3 separate regions of the Homo sapiens genome follow, and regions 1 and 3 are each linked to region 2. The links come from fine-mapping of genetic effects on gene expression. A gene starts in region 2. Each other region holds a variant in brackets. All regions are shown on one strand. Distances are from middle to middle. Region 1 holds the start of DAZAP2 (DAZ associated protein 2). Region 2 holds the start of POU6F1 (POU class 6 homeobox 1). Region 3 overlaps GALNT6 (polypeptide N-acetylgalactosaminyltransferase 6).

Region 1 (10,506 bases), 19 kb before region 2:
AGATTAAAGACCAATCAGAATAATTTGGCAACTTTAATTCTTAGGAAGATCAAAGTTCCCTCCAAACCTAATTTGATGTTTTATTACTAAAAGCAAAGACCAGTATGGTACAGTATTACTCCAGAGAAATTAAAGGAAAATCCTTAGGGCGGCTTCACCCACATTCATTTTATGAATGGATACCTCCCCTACCTCAAAATGCTTTAGGGAGGTACTGCTACCATTACATGGTTCCTTATTAAATTTGAAAAGTGCCTGAAAGTTTGGGCACCAGAAAGACACCCCAACAACATGTGTCTAAACTGCAACTTCAGGTTAATATGACTAAAGCAGTTACATTGTGAGAAGTGCTGAAGGTATGTGATGTCTTTCCCGGCACAGAGGTGGCCTTGGTTCCTCACCAGATGGTGTAGCCACCATCTGAACCACCCATGAAGAAGTTCCCCTTCCGCTGAGTTACGAGGACGTTGGCTCCCTGCATGACTGCAAGCTGAGCAGCATTGGGAGGGCATCCAGGAGGTGGAGGCTGAAAGGAAATGACATGATAGAATGGGCACAGGGCAGCTAATATAAGCGAAGGGGACATAGGGGAAGCAGAGGCCTGTTAGGATGAGGCAATGTGCTAACCAGCTGCGTTTTAAGGAGCTAGTTCCGCCACCAATTTGAGTTCTAAAGTAGGTCTATACTTTATGTGAACCCAAAGATACAAACAGGAAAGGGAGCCTACCACTCATTCAAAGGGTTCCAGCTCTAAGATGAAGCCTATGGCTACCTTCTGAACATGAACAGACCAGACCAACAGTCATTTTGAGGGTAGAGAACCACTGTCCTACTCACATTCCCAAAACAGGGACAGGGTGCCAGTCCATGTATGAATCCCACATGGTCCCTACATAGTTTTTAATTTTTAATTTTTTTTTTTTTTAATTTTTTTGAGATAGAGTCTTGCTCTTGTCGCCCAGGCTGGAGTGCAGTGGTGGGATCTCAGCTCACTGCAACCTCCACCTCCCAGGTTCAAGTGATTCTCCTGTCTTAGCCTCCCAAGTAGCTGGGATTACAGACGCCTGCCACCATGCCCGGCTAATTTTTGTATTTATAGTAGAGTCGGGGTTTCACCATGTTGGCCAGCCTGGTCTCAAACTCCTGACCTCAGGTGAGCCACCGTGCTTCGCCCTTACACAGTTTTTGAATGAACTACTGGAAAACTGAAGGCTCGCTAATGACACATTCACTTCATCTCTAGCATGTAGTTACTGAGCAGTCATTTGAGCTCTAAATCCCACGCACTGGGGAATTAAGTAGGAAAAAATGATAACTAAAATTGTTAATATCTTTCTAAAAGCTACTTACTAGGGATTATACATTCTACTTTTTTAATTATCAGGGTTCCTAGTGCAACACCATGCTGATGGCAAATATTAAGTAAATGGTAAATGCTTATGGAATGAATAAGGAGCATTACTAGACCAGTTCAGTGTACCACAATGAACTGGAAAAGCAGCAAGCAGGACTCGACAGACATGAAAACAAAAGAATCTGGTTAACTCAGCCCCCAGTGAGATGCTACTCACTTGCCACAGTTCTGCCCCCTCAAACACTTTCTGCCTGAGTATTGGATGTCAGTAGTTGTACCAACACTGGCAACTATCATCCAGAAATGGTAAGAGAATGAATATGAAGTCATTTCAGAAAGTTAAAATACACAAGGGCTGAGTTTCTTCTGATGAGGTCATACTCACAGGAATGTTGCCAGCAGTAGCCCCAGCTCCAAATCTGGCACCTGCATCATACCCTCCTTCCACCAGCACTGTGGAGCCAGGTGGATAGATGGGACCGACTGGATAATAAGCCATGGGGATTGTGGAACCTAAAGGCCCAACAGCCACAGACTGGGCCATGGGAAGATACAGAGAGGCTCCAGGAAATGCGGCTGACATGGTGGGGACTGTGGCAGCCCCTGGGTGCACAAAGCTCGGACGATAGAGCTAGAAGAGGCAGAAGAGAAGGCAAAATGTTACTTTATGACATTCCTATTTGAGATCTCTTTAATGAGCTAATTCTTAATTCTCCTTATGCAGGTTATACTTTTTGTAAGATTATACAAGTTGCCTTTCCACTGGCCTTCAATATTCTCCTGGATCACTTTCTGCTATAGCTAATGTTGGGCTCACAGAACGCAAATTCATCTTCTGCACCTTAGCCTGTGCCAAATAACACAAAATCATCAAATAATGCACTTTCAACTCCGACAAAAATTGCCAAATTATATAGTGTTTTAGATTATTCATGTTAGCATTTGTGAAGAGTAAATATGTGAAGTCAGATTTAGCTAAGGACTAAAGGACCACCCTAAGAGTATTCCCAGCTAGTTCAAATCTGGCAAACTGGAAGCACCTCTGAGTAGGCAGGTGGAGCATCGGTATAGGGTGGAGCCTGAGGAAGATGCAAGGTCTGAGGGTATACTGGATTCCCAGGAGGCTGCACAGGGTAGGTTGGCTGTGTTGGATATTGACCTGAAAGACAAGAAAAAAATGAAGGTTGCCTACTACACAGAGCTACCAAAATGAGGCAGGTCATATCGGGTAGCTAACTTAGTGGGAGCAAGCAGAAGGGGATTTGCAAATAGTCTGCCCCAGAGGGCCTGATTCCTGGAACTAAGAAAATATGCATTGTCTTTGCACCCTTAAAATGGAAGGTGCTGGATTCTAACGAGACAAGAAAGGCACTGCTCACTGCTCCTACTAACATACCGAAGTAAGGGGTTAAGTCTACCTGGGCCCAAGTTCCCTCCGGAATGCAGGACAGGTCTGGGGTTCTGGCCTGCTGCTGTTCTGGCTTATCAAGGGTGCCTCTGCTCTAGGTAGTCTCCACAGCCTGTCTACAACCAGCCCAGACTTCGTGGGTAACAGCAGTTCTGATTTTCCTTACAGATTACTATTCAAGGTCGACTTCCAAACAAAGGGTGTGAATGATGGAAGTGAACCGTGAGACTGGGAAAAGGGTGCAGGGCTGAGGGGTGAGGAGGAATATCCTCACTGGAAAAGCGGGGGATCAGGTTTGGTTTTTTGTTTGTTCTGAGACGGAGTCTCGCTCTTTTGCCCAGGCTGGAGTGCAGTGGCGCGATCTCGGCTCACTGCAACCTCCGTCTCCTGGGTTCAAGCAATTCTCCTACCCCAGCCTCCCGAGTAGCTGGGATTACAGGCGCCCGCCACCACGCCCAGCTGATTTTTGTATTTTTTAATAGAGACGGGGTTTCACCACGTTGGCCAGGCTGGTCTCGAACTCTTGACCTCAGGTGATCCGCCCGCCTCGACCTCCCAAACTGCTGGGATTACAGGCGTGAGCAACCTCGCTCGGCCTTTTTTTTTTTTTTTTTTCTATTCCTTTTTTACCCCCTCAACCTATTCCTGCGTTATGGGAATCATGTTCCGACAGACACACTGGTACAACCACAGAAAAGGGGAGAAGTTCTGATCCCGTCAGCGAAGGGCGAGGGGGTGCGAAGGGAAGGAAAAGAGACCTCACAGGCCCCGGCCCACGAACCAACTCCAGCAATTCAGTAGTTAAGTTCGGCCCCGCTGGGGGTTCCGGAGCGCGGCGCCCCGCCTCCGCCGGCTCTCCATTGGCCTACGCGAATGCCTGCGCTAGCGCTCTATTTGCTCCTGCGGATGCCCATCATGTCAAGCCCCCCCACCACCCGAGCCCGCAGCTCCAAACTGCGCCACAGAGTTTACGGA[G/A]GAAAGGGCCTGGAGGCAGCAAGCTGCCGTAATTTGGGTATGACGAAGGCGTCAGGCGCAGCGCCCTGGACTGCAGCCGGCCAAGGAGCATGGCGCAGCCCACCCCAAACCTGGCGTTTGGTGACCCTGGGCTCCGAATCCGCTCGCTCTGGGCCAGCAGTACTCCCCCCGACGGCCTCTGCCACCCTCGGTCCTTGCCTTTGCTGTTCATGGTGGTTGCGGGTCCGGTTTGTCTCGGCGTCGCGGACGGTTATTTTTTTCGTCCTCTTCCTGTTCGGAGCTACTTCCGTGTCACATGATGGTCCGTCCGCCTAGCGTCACCCGACGCCCGAGTGGCGCTGCCGCCGGAAACTCCGCCCCTGCTCCGGGCCTCCAGTCGGCCGCGGGAGGGTCCGCGCGGTCCCGCCCACTCGCCTTGGCCCCACCCCCTGCTCGTTTCTGTCCTCCCCCCCCCTACCGGTGTCCCTCAGCTGGAGAAAAACCAAATGCAGGTATTGTCTGGAAACAGGATCTTTTCTCTGTTGGACGCTCGGATGCAGAACGATGCAAGCATTCCCCGGAACCTTTTTCCACCTACACGCATTCACTCAAGGTCACCTCACCTTGGCAACCTTCCACGAGGGGCTTAGATTTCTGCAAATTTGTCGCACTGCCTGAAATCGGCTCCCCACACCTTAGTTTATCATGCGTCCCTCCCCACCAAGCCCAACTTAAGCTTCAGCTCTGTTAAAATTTATTTTGCCACTCCAGCTCACATGTATCCTTTCCTGAATGAGACCTGCACTGGAATCTTCGCTGCCCTGTCTTCCCCAGGACAGTCGTTGCCTTTCTCACGTACAGGAAGGGGTTATGTTTTCCGTGCTGTACGCAACACCTGGCACTGAAACTGACATAACTGCACTACCCATGGAGTGTTTGTGGCCCTTTCCTTTTTTTAGCACCTGTTGCAGGTGACCTGTATGGTACCTCTATTTTTCTCTATGTATGGCTTCTCTTTCTAACCTAATTATCCTTAAGGGCAAAGATGGCATCCTTTAGGGCAGCGATTAAGTGTTTTCTTTTCTTTTTCTTTTTTTTTTGAGACGGAGTCTTGCTCGCTTGCCCAGGCTAGAGTGCAGTGGGGCGATCTCACCACAGCCTCCACCTCCCGGGTTCAGGCAATTCTCCTGCCTCAGCTTCCTGAGTAGCTGGGCCTACAGGCGTGCGCCACCATTCCTGGCTAATTTTTGTATTTTTAGTAGAGACGGGGTTTCACTATGTTGGCCAGGCTGGTTTTCTTTCTTTCTAAAAAAAGTTTTAATTTTTTCTTTTCTTTTTTTTTTTTTTTTTTTTTTTGAGATGGAGTCTTGCTCTGTCGCCCAGGCTGGAGTGCAGTGGCATGATCTCGGTTCACTGCAACCTCCGCCTCCTGGGTTCAAGCAATTCTCCTGCCTCAGCCTCCCGAATAGCTGGGATTACAGGTGCCCGCCACCACGACCGGCAAATTTTGTATTTTTTAGTAGAGACGGGGTTTCACCATGTTGGCCAGGCTGGTCTCGAACTCCTGACCTCAGGTGATCCACCTGCCTCGGCCTCCCAAGGTTCTGGGATTACAGGCATAAGCCACTGCGCCGAGCCTTATTTTTATTTATTTATTTATTTATTTATTTATTTATTTATTTATTTATTTATTTTTGAGACAGAGGCTTGGTCTGTCGCCAGGCTGGAGTGCAGTGGCGCAATCTCAGCTCACTGCAACCTCCGCCTCCAGGGTTCTAAGCGATTCTCCTGCCTCAGCCTCCCGACTAGCTGGGATTACAGGCACGTGCTATTCATTTTTTAATACAGAGATGGGGTCTCCCTGTGTTGGCCAGGCTGGTCTTGAATTTCCAGCCTCAAGCGATCTTGCCACCTCCATTGTCCAATGATTAAAGGGTTAACTCTTAGGACCCAGGAACTCTCCTGGGCCTACCTCCTGCTCATGTAAACTGCCCTCAGATTGGTCAGGCCTACTTTACAGGTTGTTGGGTATTTTGCTTGTCACAGTGGGACCTGGGCATTGGGAAAACCAGGGCAGAGCCAAATGAGATTACTAACAAAAATGAAAGAGTTGCAGGCCAGTGCTTTCTCTGGCAGGTGGAATTAAGAAGTAAATGGTGGCTGGGTGCAACAGCTCACACCTGTAATCCCAACACTTTGGGCAGCCTAGGCAGGAGGATCGCTTGAGCCAGGAGTTCAGAACCAGCCTAGGCAGCATAGTGAGACTTCATCTCTACAAAAAAAAGTAGTAGTAATTAGCTACTTTCTTGAACAGGATCAAACTTTGGCATTTTCTTCATTCTCGTAGATTCCCCAATGAGATGAAGATGTTTATTTGGTCATTTATCAAACATTCTTTCTTACATTAATTTAACAAATATTTTTTGAGCACCTATTATGTGCCAGGCCCTGTGACAGGCACTAGGGAAATAATAATGAAGAGACAGGCATAGTCCATACTCTCATGGAATTTATGGTCTACCTAATGGGAGAGACAGAAAAGTGAACACATAATATGATTAGTGCTGACATAAAGACAGCATGGAGTGTGAGGAGAACACATAGGTGAGGCACCTACTCTATTCTGATGTAGTCAGGGAAGGTTTCCTGATGCAAGTGATGTCTGAGATGAAATCTGAAGGGTGAGAGCAGGTTAAGCAAGTGAAGAGGGTTCCTGGAAGAGGGAACTGCTTATGCAAAGGCCTAGAGGTGAGAAGGCTTATAGAGGGGGAGGGCATGAAAGAGTTCAGTGTAGCCAGAGCATACTGGTAAGGGGACTGATAAAAGATGACCCTGAAGATCCGGGTGCGGTGGCTCATGCCTGTAATCCCAGCACTTTGGGAGGCCAAGGCGGGCAAATGACTTGAGGTCAGGAGTTCGAGACCAGCCTGGCCAACATGGGGAAACCTCGTCTCTACTAAAAACACAAAAATTAGCTGGGCATGGTGGTGCGTGCCTGTAATCCCAGCTACTTGGGAGGCTGAGGCAGGAGAATTGCATGAACCTGGGAGGCGGAGGTTGCAGTGAGCCGCGATCGTGCCATTGCACTCCAGCCTGGGTGACAGAGCAAGATTCTGTCTCAAAAAAAAAAAAAAAAAAATTGACGCTGAAGAACTGTGAGCCAGACCTTGCAGGGACGCCTTAGAGCCCATGTAAGATCCCACATGAAGATACTGGATTCTATGTTAAGGGCACTAGTTAGCCACTGAAGAATGTTAAGCAGGAAAGTGATATGATCTTGTTTTTGTTTGATTGATTGATTGATTGGGACAGGGTCTTGCTCTGTCACCCAAGCTGGAGTGCAGTGGTGCAGTCACAGCTCACGGCAACGTTGAACTCCTGGTCTCAGTTCATCCTCTCACCTCAGCCTCCCGAGTAGCTGGGACAGTGGGTGCTTGCCACCATGCCTGGCTAATTTTAAATTTTTTATAGAGACAGAGTCTCACTTTGTTGCCTAGAGTAGTCTAGAACTCCTGGCCTCAAGCAATCCTCCTGCCTCGGCCTCCCAAACTTGGGATTACAGGCGTGATCCACTGCTCCTGGCTTGTGTTTTTCTTTTAGAAAAATGCTTCTGGGCCAGGCACAGTGGCTCATGCCTGCATTCCCAACAATTTGGGAGTCCAAGGCAGGAGGATTCTTTGAGCCCAAGAGTTCAAGACCAGCCTGTGCAACGTGGTGAAACCCCATCTCGGCAAGAAATTTCTAAAAAAGTATCCAGGCATAGAGGCACGCACCTGTGATCCCAGCTACTCGAGGGGTTGAGATAGGAGGACTGCTTGAGCCCGGGAGGTCGAGGCTGCAGTGAGTCGTGGTCACACCACTGTACTCTGCCAGCCTCGGTGATAGAGGCTATCTCAAAAAAATAAAGAAAAGAAAAGGAAAAATCCCTCTGGTTGCTAAAGAATATAGAATAGGTTAAAGAAAGGGCAAGAGTGGACGTATGTCTGAGATACCATTTAGAATCAAATTTAGTCATTTAGGTGTGATGATGGCAGACTGGCCTAGGGAAGAGGCAGTACAGTAGAGAGAAATGGGGGGATTCCAGAAATATCCAGGAAGCAGAAACAACTGGACTAGTTCCAGGACTAATGTCAGGACAAAATTTCTACAAAGTCAAAACTCCATATAGTCAAATGACAAATTGGAAAAATATATTTGTAATTTACATCACAAAGAGCTAATCTTCCTGCATGTAAAGAACTCTTAGACATCAGTAAGAATATGATCAACCATTAGAAAAAAATGGCAAATGACATTTACAGACAGACAGTTCACAGAAAAGGAAAAACAAATGACTCCCTAACACATGAAATGATGTTCAGCCTGGGTCGTAATCAGAAGGCAGATTAAACCCCACCGATATCATTATCAGATTGGCGAAAATCCAAACATTTGCTAACATTATTTGCAGGGCTGTGGATAAGCAGGCATTCTAATTTGTTGGTGATGGGGGTGAAAATTGGTACAAATCCTATAAGGTTAATTTGGCAATATCCATCAAACTTGCAAACATACCATTCCCACTAATGGGAGTGATTCTACAGATATATTTGCACTCACGAGAAACGTATGTATAAGGCTATTCATTGCAGCTTTTCTGTAACAGCAAAAGATTAGAAATAACCCATATTTCTATCAATAGGAAACAGAAAAAATAAATCTTGATACATCCATACAATAAAATACTATGTGGCTGCAACAGAGAATGAGAAAGTACTCCAAGGTGTTCTTTAAATAAAAAAGGGAAAGATTCAAAACCATATACTTAGTGTGATACATTTTATTTATTTTATTTTTTATTTTATTTTGAGACAGAGTTGCACTCTTGTCACGCAGGCTGGAATGCAGTGGCGTGATCTCGGTTCACTGCAACCTCTGCCTCCCAGGTTCAAGTAATTCTTGTGCCTGAGCCTCCCAAGTAGCTGGGATTACAGGTGTGCACCACCATGCCTGGCTAGTTTTTGTATTTCCAGTACAGGCGGGGTTTTGCCATGTTGGCCAGGCTGGTCTCGAACTCCTGGCCTCGAGAGATCCACCCGCCTCGCCCTCCCAAAGTGCTGGGATTACAGGCGTGAGCCACCGCACCTGGCCAATATGATACTTTTTATGTCAAAGAGCAGGGAAACCAAGAATATTCATCAGAATTTGAGTAAAGAAATTCTGGAAGGATACACAAAATACCTATAAAAGTGGTTACATAAGGGGGAGAGGGAGTGGAGGATGTGAGACAAAGGTGGAAGTGACTTTTTACTATATACTTTTTAGACGTTTAAAAATATTTGAACCTATAATCCGAGCACTTTGAGAGGCCAAGGCAGGAGGATCACTTGAGGCCAGGAGTTCGAGACCAGCCTGGGCAACATAATGACACCCCATCTCCACACACACAAAAGTAAATCAATTAGCCTGGTGTGGTGGCACATACCTATAGTCCCAACTACTTGGAAGGCTGAGGTGGGAGGATCACTTGAGTCCAAGAGTTCGAGGCTGCAGTGAAGATAATGGCACCACTGGGCTCCCGCCTGAATGACATAGCAAGATCCTGTCTCAAAAAAAAAAAAAATGAGGCTGGGCGCAGTGGCTCACGCCTGTAATCCCAGCACTTTGGGAGGCCAAGGCAGGCAGATCACCTGAGGTCAGGAGTTCGAGACCAGCCTAGCCAAAATGGCGAAACCTCGTCTCTACTAAAAATACAAAAATTAGCCAGGTGTGGTGGCACACGCCTGTAATCCCAGCTACTTGGGAGCCTGAGGCAGAAGAATCGCTTGAATCTGGAAGATGGAGGTTGCAATGAGCCGAGATCAAGCCACTGCACTACAGCCTGGATGATGCTCCAAAACAAACAAACAAAAACATTGAACCATGTGAATGCTTACCTAGTCAAAAAATTAAAACAATGTTGGCTTCCCTATTACAATGGCTAATATTAAGACTGGACAGGGTGCAGTGGCTCACACCTGTAATCCCAGCACTTTGGGAGGATCACTTGAGCTCAGGAGTTCAAGACTAGCCTGGGCAACATGGTGAGACCCCATCTCTGTTTAAATTTTAAAAAATAAAAATAAGTAAAAGAAGACTGACCACATCAAGTGTTGGAGAGGATGTGGAGGAAGTGGAATTCTCACACACTCTGGTTAAAATCTTAAATGGTGCAACCTCTGTCAGGGCAAACTGCTGGTCATAATAAGAAAGAACAAAATGGTGCAACCACTTTGGAAAACAGTTTGGCAGGGTCTTTAGAAGTTAAACATCCATACACCACATGATCTAGCCATTCCACTCCTAGGTATTTACCCAAGAGAAAAGAAAACACATGGGTACACAAGGACTTATACATGGATATTTATAACAGCTTTATTTGTCATATCCAAAAATCAGAAGCAATGAAAGTGTCTACCAACAGGTAAATGGATAAACAAATTTAATGCCATACAGTAGAAAGGAATAAAGTATGGATCCACAAAACAACATGGATAATCTATGCTCAGTAAAGGAAGCAGATTTTTAAAATAAGAATACATACTATAGAATTTTTTTTTTTTTTTTAGATATAGGGTCTTGTTATATTGCCCAGGCTGGAGTGCATAGGCGTGGTCATAGTTCATTGCAGCCTTGAACTGGGCTGAAGGAATCCTCCCACCTCAGCCTCTCAAGTAGCTGGAACTACAGGCATGTGTCACTGTGCCCGTTGGATTCCATTTATATACAATTCTAGGAATACAAACTATAGTGATAAAAAGCAGATCAATGG
Region 2 (10,916 bases):
AAAATAATAATAATTAGAACAATGTGGTATGTATTATACAGGAAGCCTTCTTGGAGGAGGTAAATCTTGAGTTTGCAAAGCTAGAAGGGTCCCAATTAGAAAGATTAGAGGTATATATGGCCAAGCCTACCTGATTTGGTGTCTGCCTCCCTTTCCAACCTCATTTTGTACAATTCTCCCCCACCTCTTGCGGTGTCCTAGCCTACAAGAGACCAAATGTTTGTGTCCCCCTCAAAATTCATATATTGAAATTCTGGCCCCCAATGTGATGGTATTATGTGGGCCCTTTGGGAGGTGATTAGGTCATGAGGGTAGAGCTTTCATGAATGGGATCAGAGCCCTTATAAAAGGAACCCCAGAGAGCTTCCTAGCCTGCTTCTGCCATGTGAAGATGGCTGTCTATGAACTAGGAAGCAGGCCCTCAGAAGAAATCAAATCAGCCAGCATCTTGATATTGAACTTTCCAGCTTCTAGAACTGTGAGAAATAAATTTATGTTGTTTATAAGCCATCCAGTATATAATTTTTTTTTTTTGAGACGGAGTCTCACTCTGTCACACAGGCTGGAGTGCAATGGCACGGTCTCAGCTCACTGCAACTCCAGGTTCAAGCGATTCTCTTGCCTCAGCCTCCCGAGTAGCTAGGACTACAGGCACATGCCACCACACCAGGCTAATTTTTGTATTTTTAGTAAAGACGGGGCTGGGCGCGGTGGCTCATGCCTGTAATCCCAGCACTTTGGGAGGCCAAGGTGGGAGGATCACGAGGTCAGGAGATCAAGACCATCCTGGCTAACACAGTGAAACCCCATCTCTGCTAAAAAAAAAAAAAAAAAAAAAAAGAAAAATACAAAAAAATTAGCCAGGCGTGGTGGTGGGCACCTGTAGTCCCAGCTGCCCGGGAGGCTGAGGCAGGAGAATGGCATGAATCTGGAAGGCAGAGCTTGCAGTGAGCCGAGATCACGCCACTGCACTCCAGCCTGGGTGACAGAGCGAGACTCCGTCTCAACAAACAAACAAAAAAGTAAAGACGGGGTTTCACTATGTTGGCCGTGCTGGTCTCAAACTCCTGACCTCGGGATCCACCTGACTCGGCCTCCCAAAGTGCTGGGATTACACCCGTGAGCCACCGTGTCCGGCCAAATAAAACTCTTCAACAGGATTCTCAGCCCAGCACGTTTTCGTTTTCTCCTTCACTCACATTTCCCCAACTTTCCGAGCCTTCATTTATTCAATAAGTAATTATTATCTACTGTGTGCCAGATAACTGGGCTTGGTGCCAAATGTCCAGTCAAAAACAAAATGGACTGTTGCCTTGGAATTTACTGCCTACTCGGTAAACATATTAAATAGAAAATAAACATACAAATACATCAGCACACATGGTGATTAAGAAAACGGGAAGGTGATACGAGACAAAATAACACTGAAGTGCAGGGAAAATGTCTCTGAGGAAGGAAGCCATATATAAGGCAAGGCCTGAAAGATGGGCTAAGGAGGAGGCAGAAGAAACAGCATAGGCAGACACAATGAAGGCAGGAAAGAGCTCGAAGTTTAAGAACCTGAAAGTGGATCAGTATCGATGGGTCTTAGTCCGTTTGGGCTGTTATAACAAAATACTATAGGTCGGGTGCAGTGGCTCACGCCTGTAATCCCAGCACTTTGGGAGGCCGAAGCAGGTGGATCACCTGAGGTCAGGAGTTCAAAACCAGCCTGGCCAACATGGTGAAGACTCATCTCTACTAAAAATACAAAAATTAGCCGGGCATCGTGGTGCATGCCCGTAATCCTAGCTACTCGAGAGGCTGAGACAGGAGAATAGCTTGAACCCGGGAAGTGGAGGTTGCAGTGAGCCAAGGTCTCATCACTGCACTCCAGCCTGGGTGACAGAGCAAGACTCTGTCTCAAAAAAAAGTAAAATTTTAAAATAAAAATAATAAAATATTAGGCCAGGCGTGGCGGCTCACACCTGTAATCCTAGCAATTTGGGAGGTGGAGGCAGGCGGATCACCTGATGTCAGAAGTTTGACATCAGCCTGGCCAACATGGTGAAACCCTGTCTCTACTAAAAATACAAAAATTAGCTGGGCACGGTGGCACATGCCTGCAATCCCAGCTACTTGGGAGGCTGAGGCAGGAGAATCGCTTGAACCCAGGAGGCAGAGGTTGCAGTGAGTGGAGATCGTGCCACTGCACTCCATCCTGGGCTAAAGAGTGAGACTCTGTCTCAACAACAACAACAACAAAAGCCAGGTGCGGTCTTTGGCATGCCCAGGCAAAAAAAGAAAAAAAAATTTTTTAAGTAATATACTTTGTTTTTTGTTTTTGAGACGGAGTCTCACTCTGTCACTGAGGCTGGAGTGCAGTGGCACCGTGTCGGCTCACTGTAACCTCCGTCTCCTGGGTTCAAGCAATTCTCCTGCCTCAGCCTCCCGAGTAGCTGGGATTACAGGAGCCCACCACCACGCCCGGCTAGTTTTTATATTTTTAGTAGAGACGGGGTTTCACCATGTTGGCCAGGCTGCTCTCGAACTCCTGACCTCAGGCGATCCACCCGCCTCAGCCTCCCAAAGTGCTGGGATTATAGGCATGAGCCACAGCGCCCAGCCAAAAAGTAATAAACTTTCATTGCAAGAAGACTACCAATACCACATACTGGTGAGGATGTAAAACAATTAGAACTCTCTCATGCATTGCTGATAAAGATATAAATTGGTTCAAACACTATAGAAAACTATTTAGCAGTATGGACAAAAGCTAAATAAAATAGAATAGCTATTCTACTCCTCAGTATTTACCTGGAAGAAATAAGTGCATATGTTCACCAAAATACTTGTACAAGAATGCTCATAGCAGTTTTATTCCTAAGAGGCCCAAACAACAAGCAAATGCCCATCAATAATGGAATGGATAAATTGTAGTATAATTATGCAATGGAATACTACACAGCAATAAAAAATACTTCTACATTCAACAACATGGATGAATCTCAAAAACATATATTGAGGCCGGGTGTGGTGGCCGACACCTGTAATCCCAGCACTTTGGGAGGCCGAGGAGGGCGGATGACTTGAGGTCAGGAGTTCGAGACCAGCCTGGCCAACATGGTGAAACCCTGTGTCTACCAAAAGTATAAAAAATTAGCTGGGAGCGTGGTGGCTCATGCCTGTAATCCCAGCACTTTAGGAGGCTGAGGTGGGCGGATCATGAGGTCAGGAGTTCAAGACCAGCCTGACCAACATGGTGAAACCCCATCTCTACTAAAAATACAAAAATTAGCCGGGCATGGTGGCGTGTGCTTGTAATCCCAGCTACTCAGGAGGCTGAGGCAGGAGAATCACTCGAACCTAGGAGGTGGAGGTTGCAGTGAGCTGAGATCACACCATTGCACTCCAGCCTGGGCGACAGAGCGAGACTCCATCTCGAAAAAAAAAAGAAAAAAAAAATTAGCTGGGCGTGATGGCACGCACCTGCAGTCCCAGCTACTTGGGAGGCTGAGGCAGGAGAACCACTTGAACCCGAGAGGCGGAGGTTGCAGTGAGCCGAGATCACACCACTGCACTCCAGCCTGGGCGACAGAGCAAGACTCCGTCTCAAAAAAAAAAATTTTGTTGAGTGACAGAAGCCAAACACAAAAGATTGCATATTGTCTGATTCCATTTATGAGAAGTTCAAGAATCAGCTCAAGTAATCAATCTATGGTGACAGAAATCAGAATAATGGTTACTTTGGGAATTTATGGCCGGTGAAGGTACATAAGGGAATCCTCAGGTCTTGGAAAGGCTCTATATCTTGTTTTGGGTGGGGATTACATGGATATATATATGTGTGTGAGTATATACATGTATATATAGACATGTATATATGTATACACGTATCTATACACGTGTATATATGTATACACACACACGTACATATGTATACACACACATACACGTACATATGTACACACACATATACACGTACATATGTATACACACATATACACGTACATATGTATACACACATATACACGTACATATGTATACACACATACACGTACATATGTATACACACACATACACGTACATATGTATACACACACATACATACACGTACATATGTATACACACATACATACACGTACATATGTATACACACATACATACACGTACATATGTATATACATGTAAAAATTTATCAAGGTATACACATACTGTGTACATGTTATGCCCCAATAAACACAGAAACAAAAAGTAATATATGCTCATCAAATATTTAAGCAATGCAGAAGTGTATACAACATAAAGAAAACCGTGATTAACATTTTTATGTATGTCTCCCTGAACTCCTCTGATCACATCCATATTTCTTTCTTCAAACTGTCGCTGATATCCATGCTATCCAAAGCCTTTGATCTATGTGTAGCACCAAACCAAGTGACATAAATGAAAAGTTTCAACCTTCATGTGACAAAGTTCAGCAGCAATACTGAGCCCCTCCTTCACATAAAGAGTAGTGGGAAATACAAACATGAGTAAGTCACAACCAGTGCTCTCAAAGAATTCACAGTCCAGGGAGAGAAACTACAGGGACTACCGGCCAAACAAAAACCCCAAGAACTGTAATATCAAGCCACGCAGTAGAGTTTCACAGGGCCATTAAAACGAGTTCAAACTATTGTACAAGGAATGACACCTTACAGTTGTATAGAGCTTGCAGCTTTCAGTTTTTTCACATACAGGCTCACAAACTTAACCCTATGAAGTAGTCATTATAAATGTCATTATAAATATTATCCTTGTTTTATAAGTAATGAAGAAGTTAAATTACTTGCCTGGACGGCTAGTGGAAGAGTTGGGACTAAAACCTAAGTATTCTGACTCCTAATACATTGGTTACTCATAAATCCGCCGCCAGCAGTACCTGCTCACTTCCAGATGGAAACAGCAAGCTGATAACAGCCTAGTCCACTGGCCAGGTTAACGACGAGGCCGGGCCATTCAATGCCCTTCCACCACGAGGCCTTACGGAGCAGTCCCGGGGAGGACTGAGGCCTCCAACTGCATTCTCACACTGCCTCTAACCCATCTACCTCTAGCTATCCTCAGACCACCAAATATCGGGAGAGGGTGGGAGGGGGAACAGCCTAGGATGACAGCAGGTGGCCTCAGTATTGGGATCCACATTCACTGGATTTACAGAGCCTCCTTCCTTCCCAGTTCTTCTCTCCATTCCCACGCTTCCACTTTGGTCTTCCAACTTTTTCCTCTTTCAGTTGTCCACCACTTCTCCAATCTGCTTTCCCTCAGCCACCCACATCCACCCCTTTTCTGGTCCCCTCTCTACCTTAAGAAGCTGCTAGAGGTTTTTCACCATTCCACTGAACTTTGTCTTTCTGTTCACATTTCCTTGTCTACTTGGACAAGAAGGCCGGAAATCTGCTTTTAGACAACACAGCCCACGGCCGCCACCGGGTGAGAGACCTGGGACCCTTCGCTGCTTTGGCGCTGGGGCACAGCTGTTCAGAGGTTCTCCACGTTGGCTGAGCGATGTCTGAGTTCCCCCGCCTTTCTAGGGAGGGAGGGATAGACATAAACTTGACTTTCAACATTGAGGACAGTTGACTACCTAGAGGAAAGGCGGTGGCCGGGAGTCACCGCCCCAACCCTCAGCTGAAGGCCATGTGGCATGGAGGGTCCGGACTCCAGCTCCTACTCTGGCACCTTCCGAAATGAAACCACCTCCGCGGCACCTCGGAGGGGCTGAGTAACCAGACCCACTGACCGTCCATCCCTGTCCCGGGAGAGAGCCTCCGGGACCTCCCGCTCGGCCAGGGCCAGAGGGTCCCCTCCCCACCCCCACCCCTCGCTCCTGGCTCCCGTGCTCCCCTCCCTTCCCTGACCGCCCTCCCAGCCCGCCGCCCCCGGCGGCTGGCGCGGGCGGTGCAGCATGCGGCAAAGCTCTTTGCATAAATTATGCTCATGACGCAGCAGCTAAAAAAATCCAAGTAGCAGAAGGAGGGAAAAAAGGGGGGGAGGGAAAAGGGGGGGGTCGTGGAAGGGGGAACGAAGAAAAATATATACCTGACCGCCCCCCCACCCGGCTTCCCCTTCCCGCTTCCCGGCCGTCCCCTCTCCGCCCGGCTTAGCCTGCGGAGCCCCCTTCGGCTCTGCCCAGCCCAGGCTGGGGGCCTGGGGGCGGCGGCGGGTCCCGACCAGCTCCCGGGCCGAGCCGAGCCCAGCCAAGCCGCACTGGCTTCTTTGTCTGCGGGCGGCGGCCGCCGTGGCCCCGGCCCCGGCCCCGGCCCCCTGGCCCGGGCTGTGAGATGAATCTCTAATCGGTGGCCGCCAGACACCCGCGGCGAAGGCGGCTCGGGCTCGGGCTCCGGTAAGTAGCGGGGTCCGGGGCGGGGAGGGGTTTGCACGGAGGGGGAGGGGGCCGGGCAGGGGAGGTTTCGGGTTTGGTTAATATGCAATGCCCGTAATTAGCATAATTTATATATTTATGATAAAGAGAAAAAAAGCCGCGGGGCCGGGGCGGCGGGATGCTGGGCCGGGGCGGCGGGGAGCTGCGGGAGCGGGACAGCGCGCGGTTGCCCAGCTGGGGCTAGACACCCGGGGGCCGCGCCCTCGCCCGCCCGCGGGCCGCTCTGGACCTGGAGCGGAGGGGGCGGCCGCCAGGTGGACCCGGTGGGGAACCCCGACCTGGCCCCTCCCCGTTTCTGCCCCTGGAGCCCTTGTGGGGTGCGGACCACAGGGGACGCTCTGTACACAGAACCAGTGGCGACCAGAAGCGGATCCTTGCCTCTCTGGAGAACACGGACGCCTGGGTTCCCGGCGGTTAGGGCCAGCTGGGGCGGCCAGGGTGACCTGTCACGGTTCTCCCGAATGAACAAACTCCGGGACGACCGGTGGGACCCGGGGGTAGGGACCCAGGCGTTGCTGGAAGGGTGGGTCAGTGATGGGAGGGCCACCTTCTAGCAGAGCATGAGCACTTCATAAATATTTAATATCGATATTATTATTAATAAATAGTCATAATAATGGGCCCGATGCAGGCTCCCTGGGCAGGCTCACCTGGCAAGGCCAAGGGAGCTCCCAGCATACCCTCTAACCTCCACTTTCGCGGCAGAATACCCCACTCAGCCCGACTGGAAGCCTAAAACCTTCACAGAATAGCCTCTGCGGCTGGGCAGGGGGAAATCAGAAGAGTTCGGGAAGCATTCCTGGGCCAAAGAAAAGAGGCTCTTTGCAGAGATTTTTAACCTCATCTGCCCTTCCCAAATTCCTTGTTCCAAAAGTAGAGGGCTGGTCTTCAATTGTTCATATACATGTGTCCCATGCCCCTTATTTAGCAATCTAAGGCAGCCACCATTGACTGGCAGAGGCCTTCTGAGGAATAATTCCATATATTCCATTTTCATTCAAGTCCTGGTCCTCAAAGTGATACTTCTGTGACCTGGTACTCCGCTTATCTGCTGTAGAACTTCATTTCTTCATTAGTTCAACAAAAATACCCACTCAGTGCCATGCTCTGAACAATTCAGACAAAACTTCTATCATGGAGTTTTTATTCTGGGGGTGGACAAGTAGATGCTAAACATTAAAACTAACAAGGTAATACCATAGAGTGATTGTGTGTCAGTGTGTGTGTATGTAGCCATTTATTCTGTTTTGTTCCTGGAAGTACTAGCTGGCAGTTAAGAAAAGTGACTCAGAAAAAATTTGCTCCTGTAAGGTTTTTCTGCATTTTGAAGGAACTTGGGATAAGCTCATATTCTTGTCCCCAAGATTTACTCACCATAAAATTATCAGAGTAATCTTTTACATTTTCTTTTTTTTGAGACAGAGTCTAGCTGATTTTTTTGTATCTTAGTAGAGATGGGGTTTCACCGTGTTGCCCAGGCTGGTCTCGAACTCCTTAGCTCAGGCAATCCAACCGTCTTGGCCTCCCAAAGTGCTGGGATTACAGGCGTGAGCCACCGTGCCTGGCCATCTTTTACATTTTTAAAATGCTTTATAATTTAAAACATTTTTATATGCATGCTTTACTTCAGTTCAAAATAATAGCAATGATAATAACAAACATATATATAGTGTTTGCTTCATGCTAGGCCCTGTTTTAAGTGCCTTCCATAAATATTATCAATTTAATCCTCACAATAACCCATGAGGTGGTTACTATAATTTGGTTCCATTTTGGATAAGGAAACGGAGGCTTATAGGGATTACCTCTAGTAGAAGCAGTACTCAAGCTGGGTCTTCTGCCTTTAAACCTGCCTTTGACCCCTCATGTCAAAATGAGGGTTCATGAGGCAGAAGAGAGAGTGGGATGCAGGAGAAACTGGCCACAGGAGGAAGGCTTGGAATGAGAAATTAGACGGGCGCTTTAGGAAGGGGCCAGTGTGGTCTGGGTTCTCCAGAACCCAATACTACACCTTGGAAATCTCTCTTTTTTTTTTTTTTTTTTTTTTGAGACAGGGTTTCACTCTGTCGCTCAGTCTGGAGTGCAGTGGCGCGATCTTGGTCTCACTGCAACCTCCACCTCCCGGGTTCAAGCAATTCTCCCACCTCGGCCTCCCAACTAGCTGGAACTATAGGCGCACACCACCATGCCTGGCTAATTTTTGTATTTTCAGTAGAGACGGGGTTTCACCATGTTGGCCAAGCTGGTCTTGAACTTCTGACCTCAAGTAATCCGCCCGCCTCGGCCTCCCAAAGTGCTAGGATTACAGACGTGAACCACCACACCCGGCCTGTACCACGTCTTTGAAATCATTTTTAAGTAGCCCCAGTACTGGAAATGGAGGCAAAACATTTGAAGTAGGGTGTGTGTTTTGAGGGAAAAGGTAGGAAATAATAAGAGGCTAAGTGATGTGGCTATGACGTGACCTCGTATCTTCAATTGTTTTCAGCCCATATTCATGAACCTAGTTATATACCAGATATTATCTTAGGCACCAGGGATATGATGATAAGCAGACATGATCCCTGCCTTCCTGGAGCTTACAGTCTACTAGGAACATACCTACTTTTCATTTTTCACATTTCTTTTTTTTTTCTTTTTTGAGACAGGTTCTCACTCTGCTGTCACCCAGGATGGGGTGCAGTGGCACAATCTTGGCTCACTGCAGCTTCACCTTCTTGGGCTCAAGCGATTCTCTGGCCTCAGCCTCCCAAGTAGCTGGGACTACAGGCCTGCGCCACCACACCCAGCTAATTTTTTATTTGTTTGTTTGGGTTTGTTATGTTTTGGTAGAGATAGGGTTGCACCATGTTGGCCAGGCTGCCCTCCAACTCCTGACCTCAAGTGATCCACCCGCCTCAGCCTCCCAAAGTGCTGGGATTACAGGTGTGAGCTACTACCCTTGACTCTACTCTCCTATTTATTTGGTCACCTCATCATTCTTTTTCCTTTCTCTGGCCTGTGTGTGCCTAGCTGTTAGCCTACCAACAGCTTGGCAAGACTGTTATCTCTGCTCATGGTTCAGGGTGTGGGGACAGGCGTCGGTGTGGAGCAGAATTGAGATCCTCTGTTTTCCAGTGTGTCCTGAGCCTTGGGGACCAGAGCAGTCCCCATCAGCCTTACCCCCATTTCCTGAGAGGAGGTTCTGTGTGGTGTCAGGAGGATGGGGTCCGGGGCAGGTCGACAGAGCCTTGAAGTTTGAATCTGCCACTGACTCTCCTGTGCCCTTGGTCAAGTCACCTGACCTCTCTCTACCTCTATGTACATATAGATAAAAATGAAGATGATTGTGGTAAGAGTCATGCTAAGCATTTCATTTACATGATCTCATATCACCATCATAACAATCCCATAGGGCTTGCCTATTTAATCACCATTTTATTTATTTATTTATTTATTTATTTTTATTTATTTATTTTTTTGACATAGAGTCTCACTGTGTCTCCCAGACAGGAGTGCAATGGCATGATCTCGGCTCACTGCAACCTCCGCCTCCCGGTTCAAGCGATTCTCCTGCCTTAGCTACCCAAGTAACTGAGATTACAGGCACCCGCCACCACACCCAGCTAAGTTTTGTATTTTTAGTAGAGATGGGGTTTCCCCATGTTGGCCAGGCTGGTCTTGAACTCCTGACCTCAGGTGATCCTCCTGCCTTGGCCTCCCAAAGTGCTGGAATTACAGGTGTGAGCCACTGCGCCTGGCCTAGTCACCATTTTAAAGATAACGAAATTAGGCCGGATGTGGTGGCTCACGCCTGTAATCCCAGAACTTTGGGAGGCCGAGGTGGGCAGATCACAAAGTCAGGAGTTCGAGACCAGCCTGGCCAATATGGGGAAACCCCGTCTCTACTAAAAATACAAAAATTAGCTGAGCAAGGTGGTGGGCGCCTGTAGTCCCAGCTACTCGGGAGGTTGAGGCAGGAGAATCGTTTGAACCTGGGAGGCAGAGGTTGCAGTTAGCCGAGATCATGCCACTGCACTCCAGCCTGGGCAACAAGAGCAAGTCCTCGTCTCAAAAAAATAAAATAAAATAAAATAAACCATAGAAATGGGCCAGGTATGGTGGCTCATGCCAGTAATACCAGCACTTTGGGAGGCTGAGGTGGGAAGATAATTTGAGCCCAGGAGTTGGAAACCAGCTTAGGCAACATGGAAAGACCCTGTCTCTGAAAAAAAATGATAATAAAACCAGAAATGGATCTGAGTTTAAAAGTCTGAATCCCATACAAGTTCCATTTTCCTACATAGGACAAGATTCTTTTACATAAAATTTCATGTCTGAAATACAGGCCTCCCTGGGAACAAGCACCACATAAAACTGCATTAGAGGCCGGGCGCGGTGGCTCACGCCTGTAATCCCAGCACTTTGGGAGGCCAAGGCGGGTGAATCATCTGAGGTCAGGAGTTCCTGACTAACCTGGGCAACATGGTGAAACCCCGTCTCTACTAAAAATACAAAAATCAGCCTGGTG
Region 3 (10,916 bases), 160 kb before region 2:
TAAGGAACAGAATGAGACCCTGTCTCCAAAAAAAAAGAAAGAAAGAAAAAACGAATACTTGCCTGTGTTACATGTGATACATGATGCACTTTGATATTTTCTTTTCATTCTATTCTGGGTTTTTAAAATTTATTTATTTTTATTTTTTGAGACAGGGTCTCGCTCTATTGCCTAGGTTGTAGTGCAGTGGCATGATCATAACTAACTACAGCCTCAACCTCCTGGGCTCAAGCAATCCTCCAGCATCAGCCTCTCAAGTAGCTGAGATTACAGGCCTATGCCACCACACCCAGCTAACTGGTCTCTTTTTGCTAATTGGTCTTTTTTTTTTTTTTTTTTTTGAGACAGAGTCTTGCTCTGTCACCCAGGCTGGAGTACGGTGGTGCTATTTCTGCTTACTGCAACCTCCAGCTCCTAGGTTCAATCAACTCTCCTGCCTCTGTCTCCTGAGTAGTTGGGATTACAGGCACATGCCACCATGCCTGGCTAATTTTTGTATTTTTAGTAGAGAAGGGGTTTCACCATGTTGGCCAGGTTGGTCTTGAACTCCTGGCCTAAAGTGATCTGCCCACCATGGCCTCCCAAAGTGCTGGGATTTCAGGTGTGAGCCACTGTGCCTGGTCCTAACTGGTCTTTTAAAGAAATTTTTGAATGCTAATTTGCAACACTCTGAATTTATTTTATAATATCACAGTGGATTGTAATCAGCAGTTTGATACAAGCTGGGCTGGGTAAAGCCTCAGTTCCTTACACCAGTGAGAGAAGGTAAGTTTGTGTTCTGGCCGGTGGGGCCAGGGAAGCAAATCCCATTTGTTCAATCTAGGCAGGCTTTTCAGAGAGGATTTCTGGCATCATCTCGGGATCAAAGCCAAGGATGGTCCAAAGAGTTGCAGGCCCAAGGGTAGCTGGAGGAAAAAGACTTGGGAAGAAGTGCTGAGCCACAGCGAGAGGGAAATGAGTGGATGGGGGCTGCGGGCACACTTGCCAGGAAAGCAGGAGGCCAGGTGTGGGAGCCCAAAGGTGAGGGAGATATACAAGACACCAGGGGCGGATCTCGTGAAGCTTTGTACTTGAAACAATAGCAAAGAATAGCAGCTATTCTTTCTCCAAGGCTGGTGGAGGGGCGACCTCCACGACCTTGCTAACCATACTTCTGGGAATCATCTCCTACACAGGGAGCAGAAATCCTTAACCCCAAAGTCCTGTGGCTTGCACTAGATTCTGTGTCTCTTCTAAGGGACTCTTCCTGTTGCCCTCATGCTAAGCAAACAAACTAGAGAATGAGTGCCTCACCACCAAGGCTAATCCCAGGTGTCTCATTTCGGTTCAGGATGTGGTTAGTACCTTGAGGAACTGTAGGTTTGAGAGAGAAAGCTTCAGGCAGCCAGATGGGATTGAGAGATTAGATGCCTAGGAAGAGCTCAATTTAACCCTATATTTCTTTCTCCAGGGAAAATAAAAGAAGCAAAAACAGGCCCTGCTGTGAGGGACCACGAGGCAGTGCCAGGATGAAAGAGTTGGAGTAACCTAGGTGATTCTGAGTGAATCAGTCAGGAGGCCTTCCTGGAGGGGGTGAGTCTTGAGCACTGGCAACAGTTAGTAACTACAATCTTACCATGCCTTTGTTTCTAACTGTGCTCCCTCTTTCTTGCTGGAGTGGGAAGGTAGATGGAAAGTAGCAGGGAAGACGAAGCCTGCAGGACGGTTCAAAGCTGTCATGGCAAACACTCCCCCATTCTGCAGGCCTCTGTGTGGGCTTAGCCGGGACAGTTCCAGAACTGATGAGGTGTCTAGCTCAAGCAAATCCCCCTGTGCTAGCCCCAGCATAGCTCAACCTCTGTGACAAGAAACTCCTGCTACACTGAATCCCCATTTCCTCCCCGAAGCCTTCCTCAAACCCACAGGGAACTCTACCTCTCTCAGCTTAGCTCTTACTGTCTGTGCTATTCTGCTTTAATTTTATTCATTTTTGAATAAGTAATATAGTCAGGGTTCAAAGTACAAAAGAGTATTCAGTGAAAGGTCCTTTTCCTGCTCCTGAATCTCCCCTGGTCAGGTGCTTCCTTCACCTGGTCAGTGCTATCAGTTCTCGTTCTCCAATAAGATTTTCAAATCCCTTGGGGAAAGGAATTGAGCCTTTGTGTCCCTCTGTGTACCAGACGGGGTAAACTGTCCCACCCCATCACCCAAGGGGGTCTTCCTAGGCACCATACCCTCCCTCTTCCATCCACACTGCTACTAACTCTCCTGGGTCAGACTCCGAATGGGTCATCCAGCTGCCAAGCAGGTCCCTTTCCAAGATACCCTCCACCGCTGTCATATTGCTCTTCCTGTAATGCTGGGCTCCCAGCTTAACGCTTTATTACTCCCCATGCCTTGGGTCAAGGGCAAATGCTCCTCAGCATGATGAACAAGGCCCTTAGGACTTGGTTTCAGCCACCTCTGTAGGCCCAATTTCTGCTACTCCTGCCATACCAGACTGCTTACAGTTCTGTGACTGGCTCTTCTGTCTCCCACCTCTAGACCATTGCAGGTACTGTGCCTTCTGCCTGAAATGTGCTCACCTCGCCTCGCTGACTCCTACTCGCCAGTTAGTGTTCGGCCCATTTCTGCCCCCGTGAGATTTCTTCACAGATGTTGCCCTCCCCCATTTGCTGAGTTTCCTGCATGCCGGCTCCTTCAGCACTCAAGGGTACCTCTTTGATTCTGCTTCTCACAGGGTAATCTCTGTTTAAAATCTGATGCCCCCAATTGACTGTAGGATCCTTGAGGGCTGGCCTTGCACTTCTCTGTGTCCCCCGCCTCTTGCAGAGTACCTGGTAGAGGCAGTTATTCAGTAAATACTGGTGGAATAAACAAATCTCTCCTATCTCCTAGACAATAGTTAATACAAAATAGATGCTCAAAGAGATTTCTTTTGTTTGATTTTTGACGGTGCTGCTGAATCTGATGTTATAAAAGAAGCCACATTTGTACCCCAGTCCAGAATGAATCCACCTCCCCACTTGAGATCACGATGGCCACATACTCCCAAGGTCTCAGACACCAGGCCTCTCCACAGGCAGGAGCTTGTGCGTTTAAACAATAGCATTAAATAGTACAACCAGAGTTATTTTTAAGCAAAACATGCAGGGAGTAATGAACGTGGCTTTGGCCAAGGGCCAGGTGCTTGAGGATAACTGCTGGGAAGTGAAGCAGGGATTTATCATAATAATAGAAATAGTTGATACCATTTATTGAGGGCTTAGTGTGACAGGTGCTCTGCCAAACATTTTACCTACATTATCTGATTTAATCCTCCCCACAACCCTGTGAGTTAGGTATTAGTTGCCCCCACTTTATAGATGAGGAAATTGAGGCTTAGAGGGATTAAGTAAATTACCCAAGGGTCACACAGCTGCTAATGATCAAAACTAACACTTTGTGGGAACTTACCATGTGCAGAGACTGCTAAGCTTTGTCCATGAATTTTGTGGGGAAGGAGCATAATCCTTGTAACAACCCTAGGAGGTAGGTGCTACTACTAGAAGAGGAAGAACTGGAATTTGTGCCCAGGTCCCTTGCCATTGATGTCTAGTGCTTAACCAGTGAGCTTATGTGTCCAGAACTCTGCACAGAAAGTTCTGCAAGCATTCATCCTCTAGGGCATGGATCCACATGCCTGGGGGTGGAGCCTGGTGAACGCCCATGCCCAGCCCTGCCGGGAATGTCTTGTCATGAAATCTTAGGTTTCTGTTAAATTCTTTTTTATTAAATAGGAGTAGATTACAGATAACTTTTATTTATTTATTTTTAAAGACAGAATCTCTCTCTCGCCCATGCTGAAGAGCAATGGTGCGATTATAGCTCACTGCAGCCTTAACCTCCTGGGCTCCAGCAGTCCTCCTGCTTCAGCCTCCCAGGCAGCTAGGACTACAGGTGTGCACCACTACGCCTCGCTAATTTTTAAAATTTTTTATTGAGATGGGCTCTCAATACGTTGAGCAGACTGGTCTTGAACTCCTGGGCCCAAGCGATCCTCCCACCTCAGCCTCCCAAAGTGCTGGGATTACACCATGCTTGGCCAAGAAATATTTATAAAATACGTATAGGGTCTAAAGAATTACAGTCCACCAGCAGCCGCCATCCACTTTGAGAAAAAAACACTTTGAAGTCCCCCATTAACCATCTCTAATCCTGTACCGTTTTCTTCATCTTCAGAAACTGGTTATGTCATTTCTTTAGCTTTCTTTTTTTCGTGGGGAGACGGAGTCTTGCTCTGTTGCCCAGGCTGGAGTGCAGTGGCATGATCCTAGCCTACTGCAACCTCTGCCTCCCGGGTTCAAGTGACTCTCCTGCCTCAGCCTCCCAAGTAGCTGGGATTACAGGCATGCGCTACCACGCCCAGCTAATTTTTGTATTTTTAGTAGAGACAGGGTTTCACCATGTTGGCCAGGCTAGTCTTCTTTAGCTTTCTTTATAGCTTTATCACATATTTGTATTCAAGAACAAGATATTGTTTAATTTTAGCATGTTTTTACATTTTCTATAAGTGGAATCATACTGTATGTATCCTTTTGTCACTTGCTTTTTTCACCCAACAACACATCCACATTGTTGCATGGAGAAGTGGTTCATTCTTGGTCATCACTGTAGAGCACTGCACGGTATGGGTATTTTGCACTTTATTTATTCATTCTGCTAGTGGACTTAAAGGTTTTACCAGTTTGTTGCCATTTAAGTCAGTGTTGGCTTAAATGTTCTTGTACATACCTCTTGGTTTGCATCTACCAGAGTTTGTCTGGGATATAAAATGAGGAGTGGAATTGCTGGCTCAGGCTGTGTTCATTTCAAATTTTTCTTGATAATACCAAGTTGTTTCCCAAAGCCATAATGATTAAATCTCATGAGTTTAATGATTAAATCTCATGTAGTGTTTCAGTGTTCCAGTGACTCTAGATCCATGCATATTAGGATCTTAGGGCAGGAAAGAAACACTGCCTCCGGTCTCCTCATTTTATGGATGAAGGAAATGTAGATATGGGAAAGTTGTGGCCAATAAGGTGATGCCACCACTCAGCAACAGAGCCTGGCCTCGAACCCCAAGCACCCGACTCCCTCCTTACCCTGTGTTGGCTCACTTCTCTCTCTTGTCCCCTCCTTTCTCAGGCTGAGGCCCCAGCTTGTGGCCACCACAACGTATCAAGCTATCTCCAGGGTTGGGCTCAGGACTCAGAGCTGACGCAGCTGGGGTGCCCCTTGGTTCTGGAGGATGAGGCT[C/T]CTCCGCAGACGCCACATGCCCCTGCGCCTGGCCATGGTGGGCTGCGCCTTTGTGCTCTTCCTCTTCCTCCTGCATAGGGATGTGAGCAGCAGAGAGGAGGCCACAGAGAAGCCGTGGCTGAAGTCCCTGGTGAGCCGGAAGGATCACGTCCTGGACCTCATGCTGGAGGCCATGAACAACCTTAGAGATTCAATGCCCAAGCTCCAAATCAGGGCTCCAGAAGCCCAGCAGACTCTGTTCTCCATAAACCAGTCCTGCCTCCCTGGGTTCTATACCCCAGCTGAACTGAAGCCCTTCTGGGAACGGCCACCACAGGACCCCAATGCCCCTGGGGCAGATGGAAAAGCATTTCAGAAGAGCAAGTGGACCCCCCTGGAGACCCAGGAAAAGGAAGAAGGCTATAAGAAGCACTGTTTCAATGCCTTTGCCAGCGACCGGATCTCCCTGCAGAGGTCCCTGGGGCCAGACACCCGACCACCTGAGTAAGTAGCACCCAGAGTCCTTGTGGGGAGACCAGGGCTTTGCTAAAGGCATGGCTAGTATGGCCAGGGCCATAGATCAAGGGCCAGAGAAAGAGTTGAAGGGAATTTTATAATATGGGCAAGGATCTCCTCTATGCCTCACTTCTTTCCCAGAACAACTGTGCTGATCCCAGGGGTTGTGATTCAAGGGTATTATGGTCAGGCCAGAGGCCCAGGGAGACCTGTGAGAGTGAAATGCAATTATGAAAGTGAGATGATGTGGAAGAAGGAACTCAGCCTGGCACCAGGACCTGGCACGGGGTGACTGGGGAGACCTGATACCAAGCTGTGGTTTCAGTAGCTTTCTCCTCTACTGAGGCCTGCTCCAGAGACTGTGGGACTCTAATGCTGAGCTGTTTGGGGGGGGGGTGGGCATTTCTTAACAGCAACCCTGGTGGTTAGGAATATCCTCACACCTGGTTTCCTCCAGTGAAGGCCCACAAGGCCGGAATTGATTCCAACCTTTATCTGAAGTTGTTTATAGCCTCAATCTTGCACAATGAGATCTCACTTAGATCTTTGAGTGGCAGCCCCCTCCCTCTAACGCCCCCATGGCTGCATTCCCATGATCCTCAAGTTAAAGACAGTGTGTCTTCCCCACTTAGCCTTTGTCTTTTCCAGGTCAAGTGTTATACCCTATTTGGCCTTTTCTCAAATGGCAGCCCTCATCCCCAGATTTCGTGAGTCTTTAGGGCTGTGAACCTGAGGTTCTTGAGACTTGAGCCAAGTATGATAGCCCTAGAACAAGGGGCCACTTGAAGCTATCAGGAATTCCTCAGCAGAGAAGGGCACTGGGGCCAGGCACAGTGGCTCATGCCTATAATCCCAGCACTATGGAAGGCTGAGGTGGGTGGATCTCTTGAGGCCAGGAGTTCAAGACCAGCCTGGCCAACATGGTGAAAGCCTGTCTCTACTAAAAATACAAAAAAATTAGCCCGGCATGGTAGTGGGTGCCTGTAATCCCAGCTACTCAGAAGGCTGAAGGACAAGAATCGCTTGAACCTGGGAGGTGGAGGTTGCAGGGAGCTAAGATCATACCACTGCACTCCAGCCTGAGTGACAGAGCAAGACTCTGTCTCAAAAAAAACAGACAGAGAGAAGAGCACTGGGTGTGACAGCAGCCAGAGGAGGAAGACAGGGAATCTCTCTGGAGGGTCCCCAAGAAATCCTCTGACCAGCAGAGGAGGTCAAGGAAAGGGTGTGAGGTCACATGATTCCTTGAGATCCAGGATTCACACATTCCCACCCCAACCCTGAGATAGAGTGTCAAGAAGGTAGCAGCATGGCCAAGTGCCACAGAGTAGCTGGAGTGGATGAAGTTGGAAGAAAGGTTGCAGGAAATTGACTGTGATAGTGGTGTCAAATCACAGGGAGTTAATGAGAAAATGGATTAGAGAGGAACTGTACGCTGTAAAGGGAAGAGCCTTTTCTTCTCATTGAGTATGGAAATCATAGTCACTTTTCTCAGATGTCAAATTTGGCCTTTATTACCTACCCCTCTGGGACCTCTGGATTGGATTACATTTTATGCAGTTCACATATTACGGAGGAAGAGAGCCAGCCCTGGGAACTCCTAGCCTGAGAGCAGATAGCAGATGAAGGAAGGGGGTGGAGGAGCCTCAGCATCACAGCTGGGGCACTGAGCCAGCTCTGTGGGGATGGATTTTGGAGTGGTTTGGCTAGAACCTGTGCAAAGGCTCAGGGTGGGTGGCAGATACCGGGGAAGACAGGAACAGGGAACAGCTGTTCCCACCTGCTATAGAGAATGTAGGCTGTGGTTCAGAGGAGTGGAGGATGGTCTGGGGGAGTCTCTGGATGGGGCCCTCCCCACACCTGGTACTCCCAGGGACCAGGAGAACTTTGTCCGTACTTTCATACTTCCAGGTGTGTGGACCAGAAGTTCCGGCGCTGCCCCCCACTGGCCACCACCAGCGTGATCATTGTGTTCCACAACGAAGCCTGGTCCACACTGCTGCGAACAGTGTACAGCGTCCTACACACCACCCCTGCCATCTTGCTCAAGGAGATCATACTGGTGGATGATGCCAGCACAGAGGGTGAGGCTGGAGGGGCCCAGAGGAGGGGGCCGGGGTCTCCCCTGGGCACTCAAAGGAGGAGGGCAGTTCCTTTCAAGGGAGCAGGCACCACCTCATGAGCCTGTTGCCTGACATCACAGCTCATCTTAAAGGCCAGGAGCAGGAAGAAGTCAGGTAGGGGCAGGTAGACCATGCTTCCTTCACACCTCAGCCAAAGAGCTCCAAGAGCTTTTCAGCTCTGGCTTCAAGACTCCCTGAACGCTGCCAAGGCCAACCCTAACTCAGAAATGCTGGGAGAGACAGGGCAGAGGGTAGGGACAGGCCTTCACCTCTGTTTCCTACCCGCTGGGCCACTCTTCTGCTCTTGAAGACTCCCCAACCAGCCCTTTTTGCCATAGCTGTTGATAGGTAAGTGGGGTTGCTCACCAAACTTCCAGCCTTCAATTCCACAAACATCTACTGAGTACTGTGTGCCTGGCTCTGACCCAGGCAGAGGGGATGCCATGACAAAGGAGACAGACCCTGCCCTGAAAATACTAAAAACCCCCATAGGTCAGAAGCCTTTTTTTTTTTTTTTTTTTTGAGATGGAGTTTCGCTCTTGTTGCCCAGGCTGGAGTACAATGGTGTGATCTCAGCTCACCACAACCTCCGCCTCCCAGGTTCAAGCGATTCTCCTGCCTCAGCCTCCCTAGTAGCTGGGATTACAGGCATGTGCCACCACACCCAGCTAATTTTGTATTTTTAATAGAGATGGGGTTTCTCCATGTTGGTCAGGTTGGTCTCGAACTCCCGAACTCAGGTAATCTGCCTGCTCCAGCCTCCCAAAGTGCTGGGATTACAGGCATGAGCCACCGTGCCCGGCCAGAAGCCTCTTACAACACTAGCCACAGTGCTGTGGCAGTGATGCACCTGTAACAGGTGTGAAAGGGCATGGACTGCAGAGTCCAACACCTAGGAATTCAAATCCCAGCTCTGACCCTTCCTAGCTCTGTGACCTTGGACAAGCATTTGGCCTCCCTGAACCTGTTTCCTCTTCAAAAAATGGGGGCAGACCGGGCACAGTGGCTCAAGCCTGTAATTTCAGCACTTTGGGAGGCTGAAGCGGACAGATCACTTGAGGTCAGGAGTTTGAGACCAGCCTGGCCAACATGGTGAAACCCCATCTCTACCCAAAATACAAAAAATAATTAGCCAGGTGTGGTGGTGCGCGCTTGTAGTCCCAGCTGCTCGGGAGGCTGAGGCACAAGAATCACCTGAACCCGGGAGGCGTAGGCTGCAGTGAGCCAAGATGGCACCACTGCTTTTCTGCCTGAGAGACAGAGTGAGACTCCTTCTCAAAAAAACAAAACAAAAAAAAGGACTGGGCGTGGTGGCTCACGCCTGTAATCCTAGCACTCTGGGAGGCCGAGGCAGGCAGATTGCTTAAGGTCAGGAGTTCGAGACAGCCCGGCCAATATGGTGAAACCCCGTATCTACTAAAAATACAAAAATTAGCCAGGCGTGGCAGAGCATGCCTGTAGTCCCAACTACTCGGGAGGCTGAGGCAGGAGAATCGCTTGAACCCAGGAGGCGGAGGTTGCAGTGAGCCGAGATCATGTTACTGCACTCCAGCCTGGGCTACAGAGTGAGACTCCATCTCAAAAAAAAAAAAAAAGAGCAGTTGAGTCCCTTACATGGTGGGTGAGGGATATGAGATAGGTCATAAATGAGATTCATGTGCCACAGAGTGGCTGGCATCAAGTAAGAGTGTCACAAGCATGCATTCCATTTTATTCATGGTACGAGAACAATGCACCATGGAGTATGTAGCCAGGAGGTGCCATTTCTGCCTGGCGTGGCTAGGGCTGGTCTGCAGTGGAAGCCAGATTGGAGCTGGGCCTTAAAGGATGAGTGTCTAAGAGAGAAGAGTGGATGAAGGGCATTCCCACAAGAGAATGGCATAAGCACAGTCCTAAAGACATGAATGTGTTTGTTAAAGAGATCTGGTGTGGCTGAAGCTTAGGTTTGTTTAGGAAATGAGACTTAAAAGATGTTAAATTGGCCAGGGACAGTGGCTCACCCCTGTAATCCCAGCACTTAGGGAGGCCGAGGCGGGTGGATCACTTGAGCCCAGGAGTTCAAGACAGCCTGGGCAACATGTCAAGACCTTTTTTCTATAAAAATTACAAAAATTAGCCTGGCATGACGGCATGTGCCTGTAGTCCCAGCTACTCGGGAGGCTGAGCCAGAGCATGACCCTGTCTCAAAAAAAAAAATGTTGAATTGACATTCATGTCATGCTAAAAGCATTTATTTAGAAAGTAAGAAGGAGTCGTTGAAAGTGTTTCATCTGTACTGTGACTTCATTTCAGAAGGATGGCAGCTTTGGAGGAGGATAATCGGCAGGAAGAGAGGCAGAGGACTCACAGTCTGGAGAGGAAGTTCTTACACTCACTTGAGAGTAGGAGATGATGGGGCCTGAACTAGGAAAGGCTGTGGGACTGAGACACCTTTAGGCTGAGAGTCTCCACAAGCTTAGCCCTCCTCGTAGGAGGCATGTGGTGTCTGGGGCTCTCCCAGATTGACCTCCTGTGCTCAAACTCCCAATAGTGAGGGCAGGAACTGACTCCACACTTCCCAGTGTAAGCGCTGGGGCCACTCCAGTAGAGCTGCTTCCTGTCCTTGTCCTCCCCCAGCCTCCCTCCTTCCTCTAGGTTAGGGGTGATGCTGAAAAGAGGACTAGGGCTGTGGAAGGAAGGGCTGAGTGTGAGCCCTGTTGAGTTCATTTCTTCAGGAAGCTCACATCTTCCCAGGGAAGACAGATACTTGGCAGCACTTATAAAGCAAGGCCAGACCAGCCTGGGCAACATATCAAAATCCCATCTCTACAAAAATAAAAAATTAGCAGGCATGGTGGTATTTGCCTGTGGTCCCAGCTACTTGGGAGGCTGAGGTGGGAGGATCACTTGAGCCCAGGAAATTGAGGCTGCAGTGAGCTGTGATTGCACCATTGCACTCCAGCATGGATGGCAGAGTGAGACCTTGTCTCTAAAAAAGATACAAATAAAGTAAAATAGGCCAAGCACAGTAGCTCATGCCTGTAATCCCAGAACTTTGGG

Evidence for each region. PIP is the estimated chance that this variant, and not a neighbour inherited with it, causes the effect.
Region 1: its variant is fine-mapped to the expression of POU6F1 in whole blood (TOPMed, PIP 0.99).
Region 3: its variant is fine-mapped to the expression of POU6F1 in whole blood (TOPMed, PIP 0.99).

What each region holds. Positions count from the first base shown.
Region 1 is chr12:51,232,350-51,242,855 of GRCh38, reverse strand. DAZAP2 (DAZ associated protein 2) reads right to left here and starts at 4,030. Exons shown (of 4, transcript NM_014764.4): 1 at 3,936-4,030; 2 at 2,395-2,513; 3 at 1,740-1,985; 4 at 1-526. The coding sequence starts at 3,948. The coding sequence ends at 398. RefSeq lists enhancers at 2,431-3,067, 3,784-4,033, 3,957-4,251, 4,343-4,980 and a silencer at 4,124-4,233. The variant G/A (reference allele first, on the strand shown) is at 3,738.
Region 2 is chr12:51,213,093-51,224,008 of GRCh38, reverse strand. POU6F1 (POU class 6 homeobox 1) reads left to right here and starts at 5,947. Exons shown (of 11, transcript NM_001330422.2): 1 at 5,947-6,367. RefSeq lists silencers at 3,487-3,666, 5,774-5,923, 6,124-6,283, 6,514-6,773 and an enhancer at 5,564-5,623.
Region 3 is chr12:51,374,117-51,385,032 of GRCh38, reverse strand. It overlaps GALNT6 (polypeptide N-acetylgalactosaminyltransferase 6), which reads left to right. Exons shown (of 12, transcript NM_007210.4): 3 at 5,149-5,742; 4 at 7,666-7,838. The coding sequence starts at 5,252. Among named protein-coding and RNA genes, the nearest start is that of GALNT6, 12 kb to the left of the region's middle. RefSeq lists enhancers at 4,779-5,278, 5,279-5,780. The variant C/T (reference allele first, on the strand shown) is at 5,260.